3 separate regions of the Homo sapiens genome follow, and all the other regions are linked to region 2. The links come from fine-mapping of genetic effects on gene expression. A gene starts in region 2. Each other region holds a variant in brackets. All regions are shown on one strand. Distances are from middle to middle.

Region 1 (2,770 bases), 530 kb before region 2:
GATTTCCTCATTAGACTATCTTTATTTAGATTTGTTATCAGAGTAATACTACCTTCATACAATTAGTTAGAAAGTGTTCTCTTCCATTTTCTGAAAGAGACTTGAATTTGGTGTTATTTCTTTTTTAAACCTTTGGTATAATTCTCCATTGACACTATCTGAGTTTGGAGATTTCCTTGGGGAACAATTTTTAATTCATGAATATAATTAACTCTTAAATTATAGGGTTATTCAAATAATTTATTTTATATTGGGTGAATGTCTTTACCTTCTCTCACTTATAACAATTAATCTAATAATACAATTATTGATATAATTATCTTCCCTATCTTTGCAGAGAAATTTTATAGTTTCATTTATTTCAAGTGTGTTTTGAAGCACATATCTGAGTTTTCAGTTTATTCAGTTCCAAGTTAGAATATATGAGGCAAAACAACACACCAGTATACTCACCAATGTGTCATTACTCAGGTCCTGAGAGTCCGAGCTGGTCTGCCACCTTCTCTTCACCTTTAGGAGTCTTTTTATGTTTGTTTTAGATACAATGCCTGAGATTTTTAGTTGCATTTAGTAGCAGGAGTAAAGAAAAGTATATATATATATATTCCATTTCCAATAAGTTAAAATGTCATATCCTATATTATTTGACTCAGTTGATGACACCAAGTCACGTAAACAATAAATACAGATGTCATACTTAATTCTTCTCTTTCAGCATCCACATATACTCATTTAATGAAATTGATGTTTCCTAATTTCCATATTTTATTCTAATTTCTTTCTTGCAACATCACCAGCAATGCCTTAGTTAAGCCTTTGTTATTTCTCATCTTAATTATGAATTAATCTCATAACTAATATTCCTGCTTCCTAACTCATTACCTTTAAACTTATCTTTCACATTGAACTCAGAGTGATTTACTTTAAGGTAAACACATCAAGATAACAAATATATTCATAACCACCCACAATTTTTTTCATGTTCCGTATATTCCACCTCCCATCCCTGGCAACAATTAATCTGATTTGTTTCACTTTATATTCGTTTTGATTTTCTGGAATTCTGTATAAATATAGATTTTTTCTTATTTTTTTCTTTTTTTTTTTTTTTTTTTTTTTGAGACAGAGTCTCGCTCTGTTGCCCAGGCTAGAGTGCAATGGCACAGTCTCTGCTCACTGCAACCTC[C/T]GCCTCCTGGGTTCAAGTGGTTCTCCTGCCTCAGACTCCTGAGTAGCTGGGATTACAGGAACGCACCACCATGCCCAGCTAATTTTTGTATTTTTAGTAGAGACAGGGTTTCACCATGATGGCCAGGCTGTTCTCAAACTCCTGACCTCAGATGATCCACCCGCCTTGCCCTAACAAAGAGCTGGGATTACAGATCTGGCCAAATATAGATTTTTTCACTCCACAAAATTGTTTTTTAGATTTATCCATGTTGTTTAATGTATCTATAATATGTGCCCTTTAATTGCTCATTAGAATCCCACTGCATGGGTCTACGAAAATTTATTGATTATTTCTCTGTTGATGGACATTTGTGTGGCTTCACGTTTTTATAATTACAAGTGTAATTTTATAATTATTTAATACAAGTCTTTGTATAAACAAAAGCTTTATTATATTTTAGAAAAACATCTAGAAGATTGGGTTTTATGGTAGATGTATGTTTAATTTTGTACATAGCTACTAAAATAGTTTTAAAACTGTTTTAGCAATTTATATTCCCAACAGCAGTGTATGAAATTTCTAGTTGCACTACATTCTCACCAACACTTGTGGTTGTCATTTTTTACTTTTTAGCCGCCTTGTGAGTGTGATATATTATCATATTAAAATTTTAATTTGCACTTTTCTGATGACTAATGATACTAAACATATTTTATACACTTATTTACCATTCATATATATATACACACACACACACACATATCCTTTGATCCCTAGTGTTTGTTTAAATTTTTCACTCATTTCTAATTCTTGACTTATTATTACTGACTTCTAAGATTTTTTGTAGATTCTTGATATGAAGTATTTTGCTAAATACATGTTTTGCCATTTTCTCATTTACATCACTGTGTTTTCAAGAGCAAATCATTTAATTTTGATGAACTCCAATATATTGATCTTTTGTTTTATAATTTGTGCTTAATTTTGTTCTGTTTAAGAAATCTTTGCCAAACCTAAGATCCCAAAAAATTTTACTATCGTTTCTTCTACACTTTTGATAGTTTTTAGCTCAATAACTCAGTTCAAGTTAAGTTTTGTAGCTGATGTATGTTTAGGATCAAGATTCATTTTTAATGCAATTATTTTGGCACATTTTGTTGAAAATATTACCATTTAAATTAAATTGTCTTGGTACCTTGGTGAAAAAGCATTTGCCCTTATATGCATGGGTCTATTTCTGAACTCTATTTTCTGTTTCATTCATCTGAATGTCTTTCATTACAAGGATACTCTGCTGTATTGATTACTATGGCTTTATAATAGGTCTTGACATAAGGTAATAGTTTTTCAACTGCGTTTTCTTCTTTCAAAATTATTTTGAAGGGTTTTTAAAGTAAAAAATGCTAGGAAAATCCTTAAACATATCAATGATTGTTTGAAGTTATATTACACTACATATATTTATATTATTCATGTGTTTACTCTGCAAATACTAATATAAACAAATTAGTAATTCCAAATGGTAAATATTATTAGATTTTAAGTGTGATATTTCAGTCACTATTATTAAAATTTGTAAAAATAAATTTTTTACCACAAGCA
Region 2 (2,770 bases):
CAGAGATTCCTTTTCTGATAGTAAGAATAGGAATCTTAAAATACAAATAGTAGCACTTGATGGATATTGGAATGAAGTATATGCTCAGCATAACATTTAAGGCCCTGAAGCACTTTATCTTCACCTCCTAGTCCTTCTTGTAGATTCAAAATTATAGCCAAGCTGTTTCCAGAAGAATTCTGCCTTTTCTCTGGAAACCCTCGGCCTGAAAAGCATTCCCTGCCCCTCCACATGGCAGATGTCACTCAACCTTTAAGGCCCACCCAAAGTTCCTCCTTCCTTTTTTTTTTTTTTTTTTTTTTTTTTTTTTTTTGAGACGTAGTTTTTTGCTATTGTCGCCCAGGCTGGAGAGCAATGGCGCGATCTCGGCTCACTGCAACCTCTGCCTTCCAGGTTCAAATGATTGTCCTGCCTTAGCCTCCCGAGTTGCTGAGATTACAGGCGTCCACCATCACGCCTGGCTAATTTTTGTAACTTTAGTAGAGACGGGGTTTCACCGTGTTGGCCACGCTGGTCTCGAACTCCTGACCTGATCTGCTCACCTCGGCATCCCAAAGTGCTAGGATAATAGGCGTGAGCCACCGCGTCCGCCCCCCTACTCCTCCTTTTTGATGGCTCATGATTACTACCAGGCAGTGACTTGGTCCATCCTCCACCCTTCCTGAATACCTTGAACAAGCAAACATTATGGCACTTGGATTTGACTATCACATTGTAGCTTTAAAAAAAAAAATTCAACTCTCCTGCCTTACACAGAGAAAGACATACACTTCTGAAGGCTGGCCTTCAACAGATGCTTTTTATTGGCCTTGAACCAGCCTTTTTTTTTTTAACAAAAAAATTTTCCAATGCACGCAAAAGTAGAGAGAATAATATAATAAATCCCTACATATACATCACCCAGCTTTAAATTATCAACTCATGAGCATTTTTATTACACTTTCCCTCCACCTTGGCACCAATGACTTACTTTCAAGCAAATCAAAAGATTCAAGTCTATTTCTTAGAAAATATAACTACAATTATTTCATCTAAAATATTACAAATAATTATTTAATGTCGTTAAATATCCATCATTTCATTCAAGCATATTTTGTGAAAGAGCTGCTTAATCCCTGCATGTTATTTTTTCTATTTTGAAATCATGGAAAGAACAGGGAAAAGGGGAAGGAAATTTGTGAGAATGCATAAATAAGTTTCAAAGAGCCTAGATGTCCTAGATGAGAAAGAATCTGACCTGGTTTAGGGTGGGAGAAATTTATTTCTCTACTTCTCCGGAGGAGGAGGGTGCGACTTCAGGCCGGCTGATGCAGGAGGAGGTGCGGAGGGTAGAGTGGTACTACCTCCGTTGGGAGTTCCTTCCGGATAATCCCAACGCGGAGCGAGGAGGCAGCGCTTTTTTGGAGGCTTGGCTTCCCGTGCGTTTCCAGGTGGGAGAGTGGATCTCCCGGAGGCACAAGGTTGGTCTCCCATAAGGATTACAGAAACGGGTCGTCAGTTTTCTCCGGTGGGCCCTGGCAAAGCCAAGAGACCTGAGATGGCGGCGAGTCCCCTCCAGGCACAGAGCTGGCTTCCTCCTGTTTCGCTCTTACCGTATTTCCTGTATCCTGAGACGTACATCCCTTCTCCGCCTCCACCCCTCCTCCCTACCCCATTCTATTTTAATGTTTCTATTAGGATGGGTGTTAAAAACCGATGTCGTTATTTAATATAGTGTTTTTCCATCGCGCCCCACCCCCACTAAATGTAAATAAATTTATTGAGAATTTAATATAATTTATGCAATTTTAAGATGAGAAGAAATTCAAGTTTACCTTTAAGTGGTAAACTCTGAATGGCTTATATGTGTGGGAGGGACGCGGGGGTGGGCGGTAACCAAATAAATTATTGAAGAGCTTTACAAGCCAGCTGCAGATGCACATCACAGAGCTGTGAAACTAGCTACAAACATTTAAAAAGCAATATGCAAACATGTAAGTTGACTAGAGTGCAGAATAGCACACTAGCACAAACCATGGAAATTGAATGTGGAAAATGAATTCACCGTATGTCATAGAATCTAAGATCATTTTTTCTTTATTTTTTAAGCAAATTTGTAATTTTTGAAGGCTTATTATGTTTTTCCCCAAATTTGAATATCTAGGAAATCTCTGCGACCTAACAATTGATGGTACACTATACTTTAGTTGGCAGCTTTTTTTTTTCTTTCTTGTAGGTATGGAAAATAATGACCCATCTTACTAGTGATGATATGTTATATTCTATGATTTATGGTAACCAGAAGAAAGTACCACGTGTCTCAGAAGAAAAGGCTTCTGGAACTTCTTAGACCTTCATTATTAAAATAGCCTACACATCCATCTCCCTTTAGCTATGGACAAACTAGATCACACTTCTTCAGCTTTGTTCTCAGTGCTTTTTGTTTGTTTTTTGTTTTTTTAAATGGAGAGAGCTTAGTCCTTAATGCCAGAGTAGAAGTGCCTGTTAAACTCTGCTGTTTACAAGCTCTGAGCTCTTTGAGTAATTATTTAAATTCTTGGAACTTTGGTTTCTAGGCCATAATTTTTTCCTTGCAAAGGTGTTTCCATAACCAGGGATAATACATGTAAAGCATTTACTACTATAACTATCTCTTATCTCCACCCTTCTACCTTCCTCCAAGTAACCAGCACAGCCCTTTACACAAATTAGGTACTCAGTAAATATTTGGGAAATAAATGACCCCGTGGTTTTGTGCCAAATGCTACTAATAAAGACAGAAAAGTCAGAT
Region 3 (2,770 bases), 390 kb before region 2:
AGAATGGGAGAAAGTTTTTGCAATCTACTCACCTGACAAAGGGCTAATATCCAGAATCTACAATGAACTCAAACAAATTTACAAGAAAAAAACAAACAACCCCATCAAAAAGTGGGCAAAGGATATGAACAGACACTTCTCAAAAGAAGACATTTATGCAGCCAACAGACACATGAATAAATGCTCTTCATCACTGGCCATCAGAGAAATGCAAATCAAAACCACAATGAGATACCATCTCACACCTGTTAGAATGGCGATCATTAAAAAGTAAGGAAACAACAGGTGCTGGAGAGGATGTAGAGAAATAGGAACACTTTTACACTGTTGGTGGGACTGTAAACTAGTTGAACCATTGTGGAAGTCAGCGTGGCGATTCCTCAGGGTTCTAGAATTAGAAATACCATTTGACCGAGCCATCCCATTACTGGGTATATACCCAAAGGATTATAAGTCATGCTGCTATAAAGACACATGCACACATACGTTTATTGCGGCACTATTCAAAATAGCAAAGACTTGGAACCAACCCAAATGTCCAACAATGATAGACTGGATTAAGAAAATGTGGCACATATACACCATGGAATACTATGCAGCCATAAAAAATGATGAGTCCGTGTCCTTTGTAGGGACATGGATGAAGCTGGAAACCATCATTCTCAGCAAACTATCGCAAGGACAAAAAACCAAACACCGCATGTTCTCACTCATAGGTGGGAATTGAACAATGAGAACACATGGACACAGGAAGGGGAACATCACACAATGGGGCCTCTTGTGAGGTGGGGGTAGGGGAGAGGGATAGCATTAGGAGATATACCTAATGTAAATGAGGAGTTAATGGGTGCAGCACACCAACATGGCACACGTATACACATGTAACTAACCTGCACATTGTGCACATGTACCCTAGAACTTAAAATATAATTTAAAAAAATAAAAATGAAAATAAAATAAAAAGCCCTCACTGAAACTATGACATATCTGCAAATTGCTTTCCATAAAAATTGTATAAACTTTCACTTGCATCAGCACTAGATATGAAGCTTTTTCATGATCAATGACATTAAGTAATATTTTAATGTTCTTTCATACTTTGACTGTTGAATCGAGATTATTATTACTTCTATTTTTCCTTGTAGATGTTATTTTATTAAGTGTAGTTGTTCTGTTAACATCCGACTCATCCCCTCATTCAAATACCATAAGTATCTGAATAAGAAAGATACCATTAAGCATTGTTTTGTTTACAGAGTTTTTGGTTGGTTCATTTGCTTTCTGTTCAATTTTATTTTGCTGCTTTTTACCTTTTAATAAATCAAATATTGATACTGGTACAACATTAGTATACAACCTTTCTCAAAATATTTAAATAATTATTTCAACATTCCTTAAAGAATACCCAACGTTTCTCCACTGATTTATAAAACTATAACTTTAATTATTTCTTATAAAGTTATTTTTTTGCAAAGCTTTCTATTCCGATACATAGATCTGATTACTGGTTATTGTGGAAATATTATGTCAAATGCCCAGTACTGGGAGAAAAGCCAAATTATAAATCACTTTAAAATTGAGTTTTACGGACCAAGTGCAAGATATGTAACAGGTGCTCAATAAATATTTGTTGAATGAAAAAAT[C/T]GATTAGAAAACATCTAATTTCCTGGAAAAATTAATAGACATGAATTGCAGATAAAAAACAAATCCCAGTTTTGCAAAAGTTTAGGAAAAAGGAAAAAAAACTATGAGCATTAATATTTTGCTGTGAGGCCCTCAAAAATGGGAGATGGGACTGCAGTTGATGATTTTCCTCTTAATATTAATTTCCTAAAATGTAGATAGTGTTCACGTTGTACATGCAATTATCTTGCAATAAAGAAAAGGAAAAAAAAATCCCTCGAAAACAAAAACAAAAATGCCAGGAAATATCAGTCAGCAAAAATTAGGTAGAGACTGGGTCAAAATGGCAGACTTACCATAGTGAATTTCTCTGTTCCAACTCCAAATCCTTTCAAAAAGAGGAAAGACATATTTACGTGTAAAGAATAAATCCATAAGGGCATGGGACGGTGCAGGGGCAGGGGTGGGCGCGGGGGTGGGCGCGGGGCGGCAGCAAGGCGAATTCCAAGAAGATGGAAAGCAGGGCAGGCAGACTAAGAAGGTGGAGGTGGGAACCAAGTGGCCCTGAAACGGGTGAGGAAGGGGCCACAGGGTTCCGAGGACGACTGTGGCACGAACTACTCCGGATTTGGAAAGAGGCGGAGTCAGAGCCCATAGCTCCGCCGGGGCTACAGGCTGTGTGGTGGGCGTGGGAGCCTGGTGGAGAGGAGAGCCGGGTGTTTGACAGGAAGAGGAGGCCTCTCTCTGGGCAGGAAGCTGCGCTACGGAAAGAGGGAGGAGACTGCCGCGGCGACAGCAGGGACTGGTGGAATCCCGATGTGGCTGAGGGGCCGCCACCGCCAGCAGGGAGGCGGAGGGCTAGCGAGCCAAGCGGTGGGGACGCCGCTGCCTTCCTCTTTGCCTGTCTCGCCGCCCTCCTAGACACGCTCCTCATCTACGGATCCTACCCTCCCCGCTCTTGCAAGCATTCACTCGGCCGGTCGCCTGCTGACCCTCCTTCGCCACAGGCTCGTAGCGGAGGCAGCAGCGAGGTGTCCGATTTGGGCACGTGAGGCCCGCGATCCCCGGCGGTGGACGCCAGGCAGGGCAAGGCCATTAGTGGGCGCCAGAATGGAGAGGGGGATGGGAAGGAATCCAGCAGGAGACA

Evidence for each region.
Region 1: its variant is fine-mapped to the expression of NBDY in whole blood (TOPMed, PIP above 0.99).
Region 3: its variant is fine-mapped to the expression of NBDY in whole blood (TOPMed, PIP above 0.99).

The regions. Positions count from the first base shown.
Region 1 is chrX:57,259,902-57,262,671 of GRCh38, reverse strand. It overlaps a transcript of FAAH2 not described here. Among named protein-coding and RNA genes, the nearest start is that of FAAH2, 25 kb to the left of the region's middle. The variant C/T (reference allele first, on the strand shown) is at 1,187.
Region 2 is chrX:56,728,057-56,730,826 of GRCh38, reverse strand. NBDY (negative regulator of P-body association) reads right to left here and starts at 1,584. Exons shown (of 3, transcript NM_001348129.2): 1 at 1,238-1,584. The coding sequence starts at 1,473. The coding sequence ends at 1,267. RefSeq lists an enhancer at 1,464-1,543.
Region 3 is chrX:57,121,177-57,123,946 of GRCh38, reverse strand. It overlaps SPIN2B (spindlin family member 2B), which reads left to right and starts at 2,399. Exons shown (of 2, transcript NM_001006681.2): 1 at 2,399-2,709. It also overlaps a transcript of FAAH2 not described here. RefSeq lists a silencer at 2,112-2,231. The variant C/T (reference allele first, on the strand shown) is at 1,645.